Regions from separate parts of the Homo sapiens genome. Here region 2 is linked to region 1. The links come from fine-mapping of genetic effects on gene expression. Tissue or cell type: caudate. Region 1 holds a variant in brackets; the other region holds the start of a gene. All regions are shown on one strand. Distances are between the middles of the regions.

What was found.
Region 2: it holds the start of PASK, and the variant in region 1 is fine-mapped to the expression of PASK in caudate (GTEx, PIP above 0.99). The same link has a PIP of 0.9 or more in putamen.

The regions. Positions count from the first base shown.
Region 1 is chr2:241,171,102-241,179,432 of GRCh38, reverse strand. The region is part of intron 9 of PPP1R7 (protein phosphatase 1 regulatory subunit 7); the gene reads right to left. The region is part of intron 2 of LOC105373971 (a long non-coding RNA gene); the gene reads left to right. Among named protein-coding and RNA genes, the nearest start is that of ANO7, 13 kb to the left of the region's middle. The variant C/T (reference allele first, on the strand shown) is at 5,097.
Region 2 is chr2:241,146,034-241,154,364 of GRCh38, reverse strand. PASK (PAS domain containing serine/threonine kinase) reads left to right here and starts at 4,893. Exons shown (of 18, transcript NM_015148.4): 1 at 4,893-4,951. PPP1R7 (protein phosphatase 1 regulatory subunit 7) reads right to left here and starts at 3,898. Exons shown (of 10, transcript NM_002712.3): 1 at 3,818-3,898; 2 at 761-889. The coding sequence starts at 3,869. RefSeq lists silencers at 3,477-3,816, 4,947-5,306, 5,367-5,426, 5,477-5,526 and enhancers at 4,107-4,266, 5,780-5,939.

The sequences.
Region 1 (8,331 bases):
AGATCAGACTAAACATTTTTGGTAGGTATACTGCACAGATGACTCACACTGGGGACACAGCACTTCAGGTGGTCCCACAATTAGGGATGCTAAGTTTTATCATGCAGATCAGCTGGTGACCCCAGATGACTCTGGGAACATGCTTTCCCTTTGCAATTAGCGAGTTCTCTGTGGCATGATCCTTGGGCCTGTGTGCAAACATCCCTTCTTCAACATCCTTCCCAGTAATCTCAGCAGCTGATCCCTTGCCCGAACCAACGGCTGGGATTCTGCTAGAGAACATCTTCTTGGCTGACGTTTTCCTGGCAGACTCTTTTGGTTTTTGGAACCCAAACTTGCATTTTGTATTTATGGGGTTTTCTATCTGTGTATTTTGCATATACATACATAGGATACCTGTATTTCCCTTCACAATTTTTTTGGCTGATATTATAGAAAATTCACATTAATTACCCCAAACTCAGTAATGTTTTAAGCAAAAGATGGGTAGAATTCTTAAGATACATTTCATAAACAACTGGTAGAATGTAAAAATCACTTATTTTCTGAAAATCTCCATGACAGTTTAACAAAGGAGATGCGTGACACAGGCACGGCCCATCAAGAGCCGTCCGTGGGGATGGTGAGGCTGCCAGACACAGGCACGGCCACATCGAGAGCTGTCCGTGGGGATGGTGAGCTACTCGGGAGGCTGAGGCAAGAGAATCCCTTGAACCCGGGAGGCGGAGGTTACAGTGAGCGGAGATTGCGCCACTGCACTCCAGCCTGGGGGACAGAGCCAGACTCCGTCTAAAAAAAAAAAAAAAAAATTAGCGGAGCGTGGTGGCGGGCACCTGTAGTCCTAGCTACTCGGGAGGTTGAGGCAGGAGAATGGTGTGAACCCAGGAGGTGGAGCTTGCAGTGAGCCGAGATCACGCCACTGCACTCCAGCCTGGGTGACAGAGCCAGACTCTGTCTCAAAAAAAAAAAAAAAAGCTGAAGACCAGTGACAAAGTAAAGTATCTGCAACACAGATGACATACTAAGGTTTAGTATCATTCATTGATAGAATCTCTATAAGTTAATAATAAAAGGGAAAATGCACTGGACTAAAGCTAGCAGAAAGTATCAAGAGGGAACAAAAGGACAAAGTGGTTGAAAACAGAGGCGCCAGGGTTAGACTCATCTGTAATTAAAGGAATGCAACTGAAACCTAATGAAATGGCCATCACTAGACTGAAGGGGAGCAGAAAGTGGGCCCAGGCCAGGCACACATGCTGGGAGGGAGGCACACAGCCTCTCCTCGAGCAGCCCCTACCTGTGCCCCCCGCTCCTTGCAGCTCACACCCAGACAGCCCTGGGTCAGGGGTGCCAAGCTGGCACAGGCTGCTTGTGCAGGGCGCTGCCTACAGGAAAGCATTCCATCAAGAGGGCTGAGGAAGCACAGCTGTGGCATGGAGCAGGCCTGCAATGTAATTTAAATGGCATCACTTGGCTTAAACGAGCGGGCAGCATCTGCCAACAGAGCATCTGGGAGGGTCCTGGGGAAGCCCCTGTGCCAGCAGGGCAGTGGGCAGATGGGCTCCATGCCGGCATCAGACACCATGAGGGTGGAAACTTTCCTGCCAAATGTTTCTCCTCCCCTGGCTACTGCCTTTGGTCACTGTGATGCTACCTTTCCCCTGGATTACTGGGAAGAGGGTGGGGGCCTGAGCAGGGCAGTGCTGGTCTCAGCCCACCCTCCAGGCCCTGGATGTCAGCTTGAAACAAGTCGCGTATGGCAGGGGCGGGATGCATCATATTGGTGAACTGTGTATTGCTATCCTCCACCTATTTTTCTATTGAATCGCTTTCTTTCACTTTAAAGAACTTTTTGTATGTCATAGAAAATAACCTTAACCTTAACCTCTCAGGCGACCAATGGACTCTTTCATCATGCAAAATACATACGCTTTATAAAATTAGATATACCTATTCTTTCTTTTTTCACTGATTTTTAAATCTTGGTTAGGAAGCTCTCTATGATTTTTTTTTTTTTAAGGTGGAGTCTAGCTTTGTCGCCAGGCTAGAGTGCAGTGGCACAATCTTGGCTCACTGCAACCTCTGCCTCCCAGGTTCAAGCGATTCTCCTGCCTCAGCCTCCCGAGTAGTGGTGACTACAGGCGCGTGCCACCACATCCAGCTAAATTTTTGTATTTTAGTAGAGACAGGGTTTCACCATGTTGGCTAGGATGGTCTCGATCTCCTGACCTGATCGTGCAGTGGCACGATCTTGGCTCACTGCAACCTCCGCCTCCTGGGTTCAAGCAATTCTCCTGTCTCAGCCTCTCCAGTAGCTGAGACTATAGGTGCATGCCGCCACGCCTGGCTCATTTTTGTATTTTTAGTAGAGATGGGGTTTCACCATATTGGTTAGACTAGTCTCAAACTCCTGACCTTAGGTGACCCACCCGTCTCAGCCTCCCAAAGTGCTGGGATGACAGGTGTGAGCCACCGTGCCCAGCTGCATGTGGTATTTTTAAGGCTCTAAATGCCCTACAGAAAACTTGTATGAAACACAGCTATCTCCGTAGTCACGAGAGTGCCTGCTGCCATCACAGGCTGGTTGCAGCTGCATTCTATGAGTCTTCACCAACCTGACAGATAACACTGTATCTCACTGTTTTAGTAGATTTTAAAAGTTAATGAGATATGGCCAGGCACAGTGGCTCACGCCTGTAATCCCAACACTTTGGGAAGCCGAGGCAGGCAGATCACTGGAGGCCAGGAGTTCAAGACCAGCCTGGCCAACATGGCAAAACCCCGTCTCTACTAAAAATACAAAAATTAGCCAGGCATGGTGGTGGCAGCCACCTGTAATCCCAACTACTTGGGAGGCTGAGGCAGGAGAATCACTTGAACCCGGGAGGTGGAGGTTGCAGTGAGCCGAGATCGTGCCACTACACTCTAGCCTGGACGACAGGAGCAAAGCTCCATCTCAAAAAAAAAAAAAAGAAAGAAAAAAAAATTAATGAGATAGGAAATGCTTTATGTATTTACAAGCAACTGTTACTTCTTGCTCTGTGAACACCCTAGTTTTCAAGTGGTACCTGGGTGTGAGCTGTTTTTAATGTAAGGATGTTAGCCCTGCATCTGACACATGTGGATAACATATTTTCCAATGTTATCTGTAGCTGGCCTCCACCCAGTTGGCCAGCCTTTTCTATGTTCCTTCTGCTCATTCAAATATGTTTCAGGCACTGACTGGGCATGGTGGCTCACACCTGTAATCCCAGCACTTTGGGAGGCCCAGGCAGGAGGATTGCTTGAGTTCAGGAGTTTGAGACCAGCCTGGACACCACAGTGAGACCTTGTCTCTACAAAAGATTTTAAAATGGTCCAGACATAGTGGCTCACTCCTGTAATCCCAGCACTTTGGGAAGCCGAGGTGGGCGGATTACCTGAGGTCAGGAGTTTGAGACCATCCTGGCCAACATGGTGAAACCCCGTCTCTGCTAAAAATGCAAAAATTAGCCAGGCGTGGTGGCATTCACCTGTAATCCCAGCTACTGAGAGGCTGAGGCAGGAGAATCGTTTGAACCTGGAAAGCGGAGGCTGCAGTGAGATTGTGCCATTGCACTCCAGCCTGGGTGACAAGAGCAAAACTCCATCTCAAAAAAACAAAAAACGAAACAAAACAAAAAACCCACAAATGTAGCCAGGTCATTGGTGCACACCTGCAGTCCCAGCTACTTGGGAGGCTGAGGTGGGAGGATCACTTGAACTCAGGAGGCCAAGGCTTCAGTGAGCCATGATCATGCTACTGCACTCTAGCCTGGGTGACAGAACAAGACTCTGTCTCAAAAGAAAAAAGTGTATCAGGCACTATTCCAGATGCTGGTGAGATAAGAGTGAACAAAACAATATCCATACTGCGGAATATTATTTGGCCCTAAAAAGAAAGGCAATTCTGACACATGCTTACAGAATGGGTGAATCTTCAGGTCAATATGCTGAGTGAAGTAAGCCAGTCACAAAAATAAATACTGCATGATTCCAGTGATATGAGGTCTGTAGTTAAATTCATAGAGACAGAAAGTAGAAGGGTCATTGTCAAGGTCTGGGAAGGGGAAAATAGGGAGTTATTGTTTAATGGGTACAGAGTTCCAGTTTTATAAGTTGAAAAGAGTCCTGGAGATGGACGGTGGTGATGGCTGTGCACCATTACGAATGTGCTGAATACCACTCACTGTACACTTCCACATGGTTAAGATGGTGAGTTTTATTTTATGCATGTTTTACCACAATAAAGAAATTGGGAGGGAAAACAAAGTAAACCAAACACTAATTTCCCTGCCCTTATGAGGTTTGTATTATACAGTGGGGGAGACAGACACAAAAGTAAGATAAATAAGTAGGACTTCTGTTTCAAGCCATGACAGAATAGCTGGTGCTGAGCTCCTGCCTTTGTCACAAGCTACTAGAAAATAGGATAGAATAGGCCGGGCGCGGTGGCTCACACCTGTAATCCCAGCACCTGGGGAGGCCAAGGCGGGCGGATCATGAGGTCAGGAGATGGAGACTGTCCTGGCTAACACAGTGAAACCCTGTCTCTACTAAAATACAAAAAAAATTAGCCAGGCGTGGTGGCGGGCACCGGTAGTCCCAGCTACTCAGGAGACTGAGGCAGGAGAATGGTGTGAACCCAGGAGGCGGAGCTTGCAGTGAGCTGAGATCGCGCCACTGCACTCCAGCCTGGGCGACAGAGCAAGACTCTATCTCAAAAAAAAAAAAAAGAGGATAAAATATATGAAATAATTGTTTTTATACATCAGACAACAGGCAACACAGATAGTGATTCTTGAGAGACAGGAAACAAATGAGGTGGGTGGTGTGATCATCCCGGCCTTCTGCCTGGAGGAACTTTCAGGACCACAAGGAGGCGGAACCCAAGCAGAGCCTGGTGGCCACACAGAGTTGAGATGGTGATTGTAGTTTGGGGAGGCAAAGGGAGCTGGAATGTATAGATAGGAGTGAGCTATGTAGGGAAAAAGCCTCCAGAAATCCACATGGTATCCTGTGGAATCCTGGACTGAAGATGAAGCTGTGCTAGGCAGAGTGAAAAGCTAAAGGCTGGT[C/T]GAAGAACTACTAAGCAGCCCCAAGATGCAGAATGCCCAGAGCTCACCCATAGCAGGTCCATGTTTGTGTTCCCGTCAACCACAGTGGAGAGAACTTAAATACACAGGATATTCACCAGAGATCCTAGGAGGGCCACAGCTTCAAAACAGTGCTAGATTAATCTTACGGAGTAGACTATTTAGATGTACTCTAATAAAGCTTAAAAACAAGCCTCAAAAGGATCAAGCTGTAACTTAATTGCCTGTCAGATAAAGTTCAGTATGTTTTGAAGGAAAACAACATAAATTCCAGACATTCAACAATTGAACACCATAAAGCCCAGGATCTAATAAAAAATTACAAGACGTGAAGAAGGAAGGACTTAAAGGAAAACATGAATCTAATGAAGAGAGAAAAATAATCTACCAAAAAAAAAAAAATAAAGCCAAATGTTCTTTTAGAGTTGAGAAAAATACAGTATCTGAAATAAAAAATTCATGACATGGGCTTAACAGCAGATAGGCTACTACAGATGATAAGATCATGATCTTGAAGATTTAACAACAGAAATTATACAAACAAGCACAGCAAGATGAAAGCCCAAGGGGTGGAGCAGGGTGGAGGCAATGGCCTCAGGGGCCTCGCTAGTGCCAGGGGAACATGCATAACTGGGTTTTCAGAGAGAAACCGGGGTGAGGAGCAAGGGCAGAAGCAGTTTTAGAGAAAATAGTCTCCAGAAGCTTTCCACATTTGATGAAGACCATAGATTCACAGACCCAGTTAACCCTGACACATCACAGAAAATAAACTACACCATGGCACGCTATATTCAAGTTGCAAAAAACAAAACAAAATAAGAAACAATGATTAAAAAGAACATTAAAAAGCAGCCAGAGGAAAAAAGATAAAAATGACTGCTGGCTTCTTATTAGAAATAATGCAAACCAGGGCCGTGTGTGGTGGCTCACACCTGTACTCCCAGCCCTTTGGGAGGCTGAGGCAGGAGGACTGTCTGAGCTCAGGAGTTCGAGACCAGTCTGGGCAACATGGCAAGATCCCGTCCTTTTTTTTTTTTTTTTTTTTTTTTGAGAAAGTCTTGCTCTGTTGCCCAAGTTGGACTACAGTGGCATGATCTTGGCTCACTGCAACCTCTGCCTCCTGGATTCAAGCGATTCTCCTGTCTCAGCCTCCCCAGTAGCTGGGACTACAGGCACGTGCCACCACGCCCAGCTAATTTTTGAATTTTTAGTTGAGACGGGGTTTCGCCATGTTGGTCAGGTTGGTCTCAAACTCCTGACCTGAAGTGATCCACCTTGGGATTACAGGTGTGAGCCACCGTGTCTGGCCCCATCTCTATTTATTTTTAAAAAATATTTTTAAAATAATAAAAATTTTATAAAGGAGAAATAATGCAAACCAGAGGATGAAAGAACAAAGTATTTAATGTACTTAAAAAGGAAAAAAAAATCTCTCAAGCTAGAATTGTGTATCCATAATATTAAATTCCAAAAATGCAGGCAAATTAAATAGATTTTTCAAACAAATCAAAGTGAAGGATTGGTTTACTGCAGAATGCACGACAAAACAATAGAATTCTTCAGGTGGAAGGGAAATACCAAGTGGAAACTCAGATCCACACGAAAGAATAAACAATGCCAGAAAAGGTAAAATAAGTGAGTTTTCTTGTTTTTAAATTTCTTTTTTTTTTTTTTTGAGACGGAGTTTCACTTTTTTGCCCAGGCTGGAGTGCAGTGGCACGATCTTGGCCCACTGCAATCTCCACTTGCCAGGTTCAAGTGATTGTCGTGCCTTAGCCTCCTGAGTAGCTTGGACTACAGCATGTGCCACCATGCCCAGCTAAGTTTTGCATTTTTAGTAGAGACAGGGTTTCACCACGTTGGCCAGGCTGGTCTCAAACTCCTGATCTCAGGTGATCCACCTGCCTTGGCCTCCCAAAGTGCTAGGATTACAGGCATGAGCCACTGCGCCTGGCCATTTTTAAATTTCTTTAAAAGATAAGGTATCATGGGGATCGTAAGATATTTAAATGTAAAATATATAGATGGTGAAAATTAAAAATGTATTTTTAAATTCTAATCGCTAAAACAACCCTCCCTCCAAACAATCAACAAGAAAACACTAATACAGAGGTATAGCAAATAAGCCAATAATAGAGTTAAAATAGACTGCAAAAAAAAAAAAGTCACTCCAAAAAGTAGGTAGGAAAGAGTAAACAAAGAATAGATGAGACAAATAAAAAACAAATACTAAGATGATAGACTTAAACTCAACCATTACACAAAATGTAATTAAATGTAATTATATTAAATGTAAGCAGTCTAAAGACACCACTTAAAAGGCAGAGATTCTCAGACTGGAGAAGAAAGCAAGATCTAGTTACATACTTTTTATGAAAAACACATTTTAATTATAAAGGCATGGGTTAAGAGGAAATGGATGGAGAAAGATTCCATGAGAGCGCTAATCATAAGACAGATGAAGGGGCTGTGTTAATAACAGACAAGATACCCTTCCAGGACAAGGATAAAGAGGATAAGCAAGAAAGAAGAACATTTCATATGATAAATGGATCAATTCATCAAGAATTCCTCAATTCTAAATATGTATGCACCTGATAACAGACTTTCAAAATACAAGAAACAAAAACTGATGGAACTGAAAGGAGAAATGGATCCATTGACAATTATAGTTGGAAGGTTTCAACATTCTCCTCTCAGTAATTGGAACAAATAGGCAGAAAAATCAACAAACATAGTATGTGGGTTATCAGAAACTTGTTAAGACTGGTTTTCTATTTCTGCCTTAGAGATGAATGATGTGCCTCTCAAATGTGATATGAGCATGGAACTGAGTTTGAGAATTCCTGGTTTGCAGCTTTCCTTCCTGGAATGCAATTCTTTACCTGTAAAATGGGGTAATATGACCTTATCCACATGGTTGCTGTGATAATTGGATCAGAATGGAGAGAGGTATGGACACCATAAAGCGCTGTGCAAATTCTGGCTATTTTTTACTATCTTTGGTGGCCTAAGGAACAGGATTCTTCTGTGTTACAGGGTCAGGCACTACCTGGCCCCTAGTGATTGATCACCAGCCTGCCTGCCTCCCTGCTAGCTGTGGTACCCAGGTTGGCCCCTGCCTGTGGTCTCAGCACTCTGTGCCCCATGCTCTGTTCCTAGGCAGGGCATGCAGAAGGAATCGTTACGCTTCAGGAACATTGCTTCAGTATCAGCT
Region 2 (8,331 bases), 25 kb after region 1:
ATGGTAAGGCAAGACTCAGAAATAATTTCTCTCAGAGATTAAAGGTTTCTATTGCTATGGTAGGACATAGAAACACAGCAGTCAGCCATAACATTTATTTCGAATCTCATTTCCTAAACATATGGTTAATATAACAATATTGCGGTTCTTTTCTTTTTCCTTTTTTTTTTTTTTTTTTTTTTTTTGAGAAGGAGTATCCCTCTGTCACCTAGGCTGGAGTGCAGTGGTGTGTTCTCGGCTCACTGCAACCTCCACCTCCTGGGTTCAAGCGGTTCTCCTGCCTCAGCCTCCTGAGTAACTGGGATTACAGGCACACGCTGCCACGCCCAGCTAATTTTTGTATTTTTTGTAGAGACAGGGTTTCACCATGTTGGCCAGGATGGGCTTGATCTCCTGACCTCGTGATCCACCCGCCTTGGCCTTCCAAAGTGCTGGGATTACAGGCATGAGCCACTGCATCTGGCCAACAATGTCATGGTTCTGTCTCAGACGGCATACTAGTACCCATATTTGTGCTAGGATTTGCCTTCAGTGGAATTGGAAAAAACCACATCCTTTTTGCAAACGCCATCAATGAGTCAGCCTGCTGAAGGAGCACCTCAAAGAGCATATCCACCTGCCCTGGGCCACTGAGGACCCCTAAGGAGCACGGCAGTCCTTCTCCAGACCGACACAGCACCCACACCCAGGGCCAGACCACGTGCAGCACAGCCCACATCCCCCAACCAGCAGATGTCCCCAAGGGAGCTGGGCCTGGTACCTTCTGGGTCCTCCTCCCCCCGCTCCTCCCCATCCTTCAGGCTCTGTTCACTGAGGTCGGCCACGATGCCACTGCTGTGTTTCTTCCCTTCTTCATCGCCGGATTCTTCAGACTCGACCCGCCTGTCAACTGAACCCACACATGTCAATGAGAATTCACATCCACTTTATGGGACTTTGAGGAACATATAATAAACACCCGGTTGTAAGTCAAAAGGATTTCATTTAAACATGTTTGTTGAATCCAGTTCAACGAACATCTGAGTGTCTCCCATGTCCCAGCACCATTTGAGGCATATGGCCGCGGGGAGAATGGGGAGCAGAGTGTGGAGCCCACATGGATACTTAGGTGAGGAACACACTACTTCTGCCCTCAAGGAGCTTGTGAAGAATTGCCCAGTGTTCTGAAAGCCTTGGATCACCTGTGATTAAATCCACTAATGGAACCCGGTAGTGAAGCACCTCCTGAGTGCCTTTCACTTTTGGGCTGGGGGATCACCACTGTGACCCTTCTGCCACATACCTCCATCCATGCTCCACTATTTATCTGGCTAAGAAAACCAGCCAAGTTCACAGGCCCACGTTCTGAAAGAAATCAAGACTAACTCAAATCAGACTGTGGGCAGGGAGGATCACTAAGGAAAAGGAGAATACAGCCAATAGTGCTGACCGCCCACAGAAAGCTCATTGGTGTGAAATGAGCTTTCACACTGGACACTGGACAGAGTGTTAGCAACTTAAGGCTTTTAAAGGTTCATAAATATTTTTTGAATTAAAGAATAAGGCAATTCAATGTGTCAGGTAAAAATTCTTTGGTAAGGTTGTCAAATCATTTTTCTTTTTTATAACTTTACTCATGACCTCTTTTGGAAGTCTGTCTGGAAAACATGAGGCACTAACACATTACTTGGAATTATCAACCATACTGAAAATACTCTTTCCTGACTATGGTTTATCTACAAAGAGATGTGCTCTTTGAGGGAAAAAGTTCAACTTCATCTTTGTACTTCCCGCTTAGCCTAGCAAAGTAAAACCCAAGAAAGGATTGCTGTAGAAAACAAGTCCTTATAAAACCCACCTCCAAAACCTCCAAATCCATCTCTTCTTCCCTACCCCCGCAATGACGGTGGCTCACTTACTTATTAGCTGCAGCCTGGGCTCCTGCCCTGCCTCCTAACTCGTCTCTGTGACTTGTCTTGCCCTGCTTAACCTATTCTCCCCTGCCAGAGAGTCTGATCTAATTCTAAAATCCAAATCTGATCTTTTGAGTCCAAAAGTATTTCTGGAATGCTCTTCCTGAGTTTGCATCTTGCTGCTAGAGATGCAGCTTTGGCAAATCGTTTCCATTTGAAAGCCTCAATCTCCTAGTCTGTGGAAGGGAGCTAGTATAGCACCTATGCCTCAGCAAGTTGCTGTCACGGTTAAATTAGAAAAGGCACAAGAGCAGTTAGCACGTGCATGACATGCAGTAGATATATAACAAATTAGTCACCACCAGGCACAGGTCACTTGGTGGTCCAGGCTCAGGGAGAGAAAGTTCTACTGCATGACAATCTGGCACAAAAACCCCAGTAAGAGGAGGAGTGGTGTGAGGTTAGCAAAGGCTTAGCTAACGAAGGTTGGCCAAAGTGAAGCCTGAGGGCAGCAGAGAGGGTCTGGAACATGGGACAGTGGCTCTGCATGTAAGAAAATGACTTTGGTGTACTGGGGATGATGGGCTGGTGAACAGGGACAATCAATCTAGCCTAGAGATGATGAAGGTCTGAGTTAAGGTACTGGCAATGGGAATGGAGGACGTATCGGAGATTTGGAGATACTTTCAAAAGTAAAAGTCAGAGCTCCTTGACTAACAGGACATGGGTGGGAGTGGGACAGTGAGAAAAGCCGGGCTTTTATATCTGTCATTTACCAAGACATGGAAACAGCTGAAGAGGGAGTGGGAGGATATGAAGAGGCGCTTCTTAAAAAGACTCAAAGGGTATGAAGTCCAAGACCCTTAACACTACCGCCCCCATCCCCACCACATACGATTTGGTCAAACTCTCCTCCACACCTTTTGACAGCAGTTTTCTCCGTCTTGAGTGATTCTTGCTCTTTTCCCTCACCCTATCCCCAACCTCGTTGCCTTCGAGTTATTCTTCAGGCTCCAGCTCAGAGCTCGCCCTGCTTCTGCAGCTGTCACCACTCCCTAACATGTCAGGCCTTCCTGCTGCACCCGCCCTCCTTCCCCAGCTCCACATTCCTCTTCCCTACCCCTTTCACATAAGGCAGTGACTGCTCTTCTGGGAGGTCTGTACCCCTCACCAAACCATGGGACCCAAAAGTACTTAAGCTGATGACACAACTGATTCCCCAGTTGCTAAGTGGGTGTGTGCACGCATTTTTACACACATACTGTACGTGCACGTATATGACTGTACCTACAGATATGCAGAAAATTATAAACACATGTGTACGTATAACATATACATATATGCATGTGGTTTTTTTTTCCAACAAAGTGAATGAGGAGGAAGAAAGTTGAATTCAGACTTTTTGGAACTATGACAGCTTTGAAAACAGGTATCACCTTGTGTAACTCAATCTTCCGGTTCCTTGTTACCCCTTCCCAACAGTCCATTCGATTTCAAGAGAAGACCCTTCTCCACCCTCACCACGTGAACCAAGGAGCAGACTCTGGTAGATCCCAGCGCCTCAGTTTCCTCGTCAGCTGACCGAGGAGGCTCCCCCGCCCGTCAATCTCAGAGGCTCGGGGCGAGGCTCCAACTGGACTGAATGGAGCCACCGCGTCCCATTCAGCCCCACCCCCGGCCTGGCCTCGCGCCGCCGCTCTCCCCCTAGCTCTGGGTCCTTCCCGGCCGCTGCCGCCCCCGGGCCGGGGCTCCCCCGAGGTCCAGCGCCTCCCCCGCTCCCCCGGGTCCGGCTGTCAGCTGTCAGGGGGCCGCGCGGCGGCGGCCAGAGGCAGGACGTGGAGTTTCTCTCAGGCACGGAGCAGTTCCAGCCCGCAGCTCCCCCCGCCCGCTGGGCCCTTGGGCCGCCGCCCGCAGGGGCCGCTCACCCTCCATCATCTCCTGCGACTGTTGCTGCCCCGCGCCGCGTTCCGCCGCCATGTTGGCTGCTCTTCCCCTTTCCGGAATCTGTCGCCTCAGACCCCTCAGCCAATCAGGGCTCCCGCCTCAGAGCCGGCCCTGCCAATGGGATTCCGGCGCGGCGACTTCAGCCGCGCCGCGCCTGCGTGGGCCCAGCGCCTCATGGGAGTTGTAGTTCCGTCATGAGGCCGCGCGCCGCGCCTCCCCCAGAGCAGGTAATTTCAGGCGGCGGAGCCGGAACAGTCTGGAGGCGAGAAGCTGGGAAGGAAAGCAGAGGGAGTCGAAGCGGGACGCACAGAGCCGTAGCTGCAGGCAGACGGAGTGGACGTCTAGGCAGAGTGGAGAGACGCCCTGGGCTTGAGAGTTGACTTATGTCACTGTCTCGACCTCGGAGGCGTGGAGGGGCCGCGGGCCAGGCGGATCTTTCCGTGGCTGCAAGGTGCGGGCCAGTCCTACGTGCATCCCTGACCTCTGCGAGCCTCGCTGGCTGCGTCTGTACAATGGGCCGAACGGCAAGAGCAACAACATTCTCCCGGCGTCCCCGCGCGGATTTTACCCATGCGAAATGCCGCCTTCTCTTGACGCTCGGAGCAGGCGGGCAGGTGCGGGGCACTTGCGCTGGTGGGGCCGCTAGCCAGCTGGCTGGCTCCGGGGCGCCAGCTGGGCTCCCCTTGCAAGTCGTTCCCAGCCCAGTGCGGACGCTGCAGCCTTCGTCTACCCTGCGGAGCCACCCGGCCCATGAACGAGCCGCCCCGCGTCCTCCGCCTTCAGAAAGAGGCCTCCAAGAGGCGAGCTCTGCGCTACTCACCCATTTTGATCGCGAGTCGGGAGGAAACCGCATCTGCCCGGCCCGGGGGCGGAGGCGCCCATTATTCCTTTGGCTCCTCCGAAGCGCCGTAGGGGTGTTTGGTGCGTCCCTAGCAACCCTTAGCGCGGGCTTCTAGACTCTGGCTAGCTTAGTCCCGCCCATACGCGCAAGTGGCTGGTCCGTGGAGCTTGTCAATCGGTGCTAGTCGCTGTGCGATTGGTCGGTGGGATAAAAGCGCGGAAGGGCTCCTTTCCGTGGTGTGTAGCCGGCTTGGCGTGACCCTCGCCTGATCCAGGTGAGATACCTGCGCTCGGGAGAGCGGGCCGGGCTCCGCCATCTCCCCAGGGCGGCTGTGGGGCCTGCGCGGCTCCGCGCCCCTGGCCCAGGAGGATCCGCCGCCCGACTCTTAGACCAGCCCGACCCCGGGTCTCCCGCCCCTGCGCCCGTCGCCCTTCGCGCACCGCCGAGCCCGCGTCCTCTCCGTGCCCAAATCGCGGCGGGGTTGCGGCCGTTGGCCCTGGGCCCCGCGCCCCCAGCGTCTTCGGGGTGCCCTTCAGTGTAGCCTGCCCGGTGGGCGCCGAGGCCCCGCGCCTCGGGTCGCCTCGGGACCCTGCGCTCTCTTCACCGCAGCCGGCCCTGCGGGGCGAGCTCCAGGAGAACCAGCCCGGATCCCGCCAGCCTCCTGCACTGGGCGTGTGGGTCCCTGCGGGCTCAGCCGGCGCCGCGGGGTCGGGGGCGCGCGCCGCCGGCGCTCGTGGTTACAGCAAAGACCTGGACTTGAGCCTTAATTTTTTCACTAATTTTTCTTTCCCAGAGTACGGCAGGGGCCTGCGCTGCCGTCTTGAGGCCTTTCTCGTCCTTACCTTCCGCATCTCAGTACCATTCGATGTCCATTTTTCTCTTAGGGGTTCCCTCTCTTCATCTTTCTGCTGCTACCTTAATTTAAGACTTTATAATTTCTTGCCTGGATTACTGTAGCCTTTCTCCTGCTTTCCAGCCTTGCACCGACATGGTCCCTGGAGTAATCTTTGTAAAATGCATATCTGGCCATGTTACTCCTAAGCATTGAATCCTTAAAAGTTCATTTTGGGGATAAAATTAAGACTTTGGGCAGGCATAGGAGGCTCTGGGCTCATGCTTGGCCCTTCCAGGCCCACGTCCACCTACTCTTCTGGGTACTGAACTCCTCTCTGGGAGGCTTTGCCTCTGAAAGACTTCTTCACTCTGCTTGGTAGGGCCCGGCTCTGCAGGTGCCTCCTCCAGGACTGACATCCTTGCTGTGTTCTACTGCACTGTTCACCTTGTTGGCCTCATCCTGAAACTGGTTCTCCTTTTTGTTGTACAGCTGTGCTGACAGCAATGGGAGCTGTTTGCTTCTTAGCTTATGTTCTGGTGGGAGGGGGACAGTTGCTTCTAGAAGTTCGCCGAGATGCTCCCTGCAAAGTTGTCCTTGCTTCTGTTTGGTCTGAGGTGGGGTCACTTGTGTCTTCTGGAATCAAAACTAGCAATGGGAATATGGTTACTCGGTGGCACCATTAGGTGCTGTCTGCTGGGTTTGGGTTCCCGTGTCTGCAGCTCACAGTGGATACAAAGGACAATTTTAAAAATTTGGGCCTGGACGTGCAGGTATTTCTGGTTAACGTCTGAGTCAAAATTTAGTGATCTAAGGTCATGTGAAGCCAGACTCTGTTCTTTCTTGAGGCCAGGCTGTGGCTGTGGAGTGCACGGGAGGCTCCAGGGGCCTATGCTGTTCAGTGACAAACTGGCCCACGTGGACTTCAGATGCCCAGGAGGCACAGCGGGAAAAAGGATGCATCTTTCCTGCTGTCCTCCCCGCTCCCGCAGAGGGTCCCATCAGTTTCCCTCCTGGATAGGCTTGTAACTCTCAGTAACCTAATTAAACTTCCACAACTTTAGTTGGTATTTATTTACTTTCTCCCATGAAGGACAAAAAATTGCATGCCCTTACCCTCCCTTTGCTTTTTTTCCCCCTTTCCATTTCATGTTAGTTACTTTTACAAAGAAACTTCTGTAACATTTACAATATATTCTGAATAGTTATATTACTTTTTTATTATTTTATTTTTTGAGACAGGGTCTTGCTCTGTGGCCCAGGCTGGAGTGCAGTGGTGCTGTGTCCTCTCACTGCAGCCTCCGCCTCCTGGGCTGAAGCGATTCTCCCACCTCAACCTCCCAAGCAGCTGGGACTACCAGCATGTGCCACCACACCTTGCTAATTTTTAATTTTTTTTTTGTAGAGATGGGGTCTCCCTATGTTGCCCAGGCTGATCTCGAACTCCTGGGCTCAAGTAATCTGCCTGGCCTCCCAAAGTACTGGGTATATGACTTTTTAAAATAGTTTTGTAACATTGACATTGCAGTCTGAAGAGTTATATTTTTTAGGAATTAAAGTTTTCTAACAATGTATTCTGAAGAGTTATATTACTTTTTTAAGAAAGTAAGGTTTTACAACATTTACAATGTATTCTGAAGCTATAATTAAGTGTCCTGAGCTTTGTCTATAGGTTGGTTCTAAAAGTAGAAAAAACTGCCTCACACTATAATCATGTCATTGTTATTTATTATGGCAATAATTAGTGCATTTGGATGCTTAGAGAAGGAGATGTAAACCTGTAACTAAAGGTCCCATTCATTGTTGCTGCTTGTAGGAAAGCTGCACACTCGAACCCCAAACCCTATATGTAATAGCTTCCTACACATCTGCAGGTTTGCAGAGCCTTTGCCTTCCAGGGTCCTAGGCTGGGTTTGTGTGTGAATGTCTCTGAATTTTTTGGCCGTATCAGTTTATTCATACAAAAGAATAAAGGCAGTGTTAGTCATGAATTGTACCAGCAGAGTGGATGCATTTGAACCCATCACCCTAGGAAATCAGGGGACCTGTGCCCTTGTGCCTCTTCCCCACTCTTGCACCTGCCTGACCCAGAGGGAACCACCTGCCTGAAATTTAGGTTTACCAGTCTCTTATTTAAGAAGTAGTTTAATTACATAGGTGTGTTTCCCTGAACTACTTATTTAGATTATTTCATGACAAAGGAATCCTCCTGCTGATTGTCTTCCGTAACTTGATTTTTTCCACTCGTATATGGCTAAGATTCACCCTTGTGTGTAGTTTATTTGTTTTCACTGCTGTAATTAGTGGTATGAATATACCAGAATTTAAAATCTATCTTCTTGTTAAAGAGTGTTTGGGTTTCATTTCCTTTTTTCCTCCCTCTCTCCCGCACTCCCTCCCTTTCTTCCCTCCCTTTTTTCTGCCTGTCTCTTTGCCATTGAGAACCATATTGTCCCGAACATTCTGGTGTCTTCTTATCTGTTTGCAAAAATTTCTCTGAAATATAAATCTAAGTGAAAAGTGCTGTATCCATATAGACAAATGTTTCACTTGAATTGTTTTCTAAAGAGATTATATTAATGTATTAAGAGTTCCTGTTGATCCAAATCCTTTTTGACATTGGGTATTACTAGATTCTTCATTTCTGCTGACTTAGTAGGTATAACATCATCATGATTAGGATTTCCTCTCCTGTAAAACGCTTGTTCCTATTTCTTGACATTTTTTATTGGGCCATGTGTCTTTTAAAAATGTTTAAATTTTAAATAGTTGATCTTTTAAAGCTATTCTGGATATTAATTTTCTGTTGGTTATGTATGTGG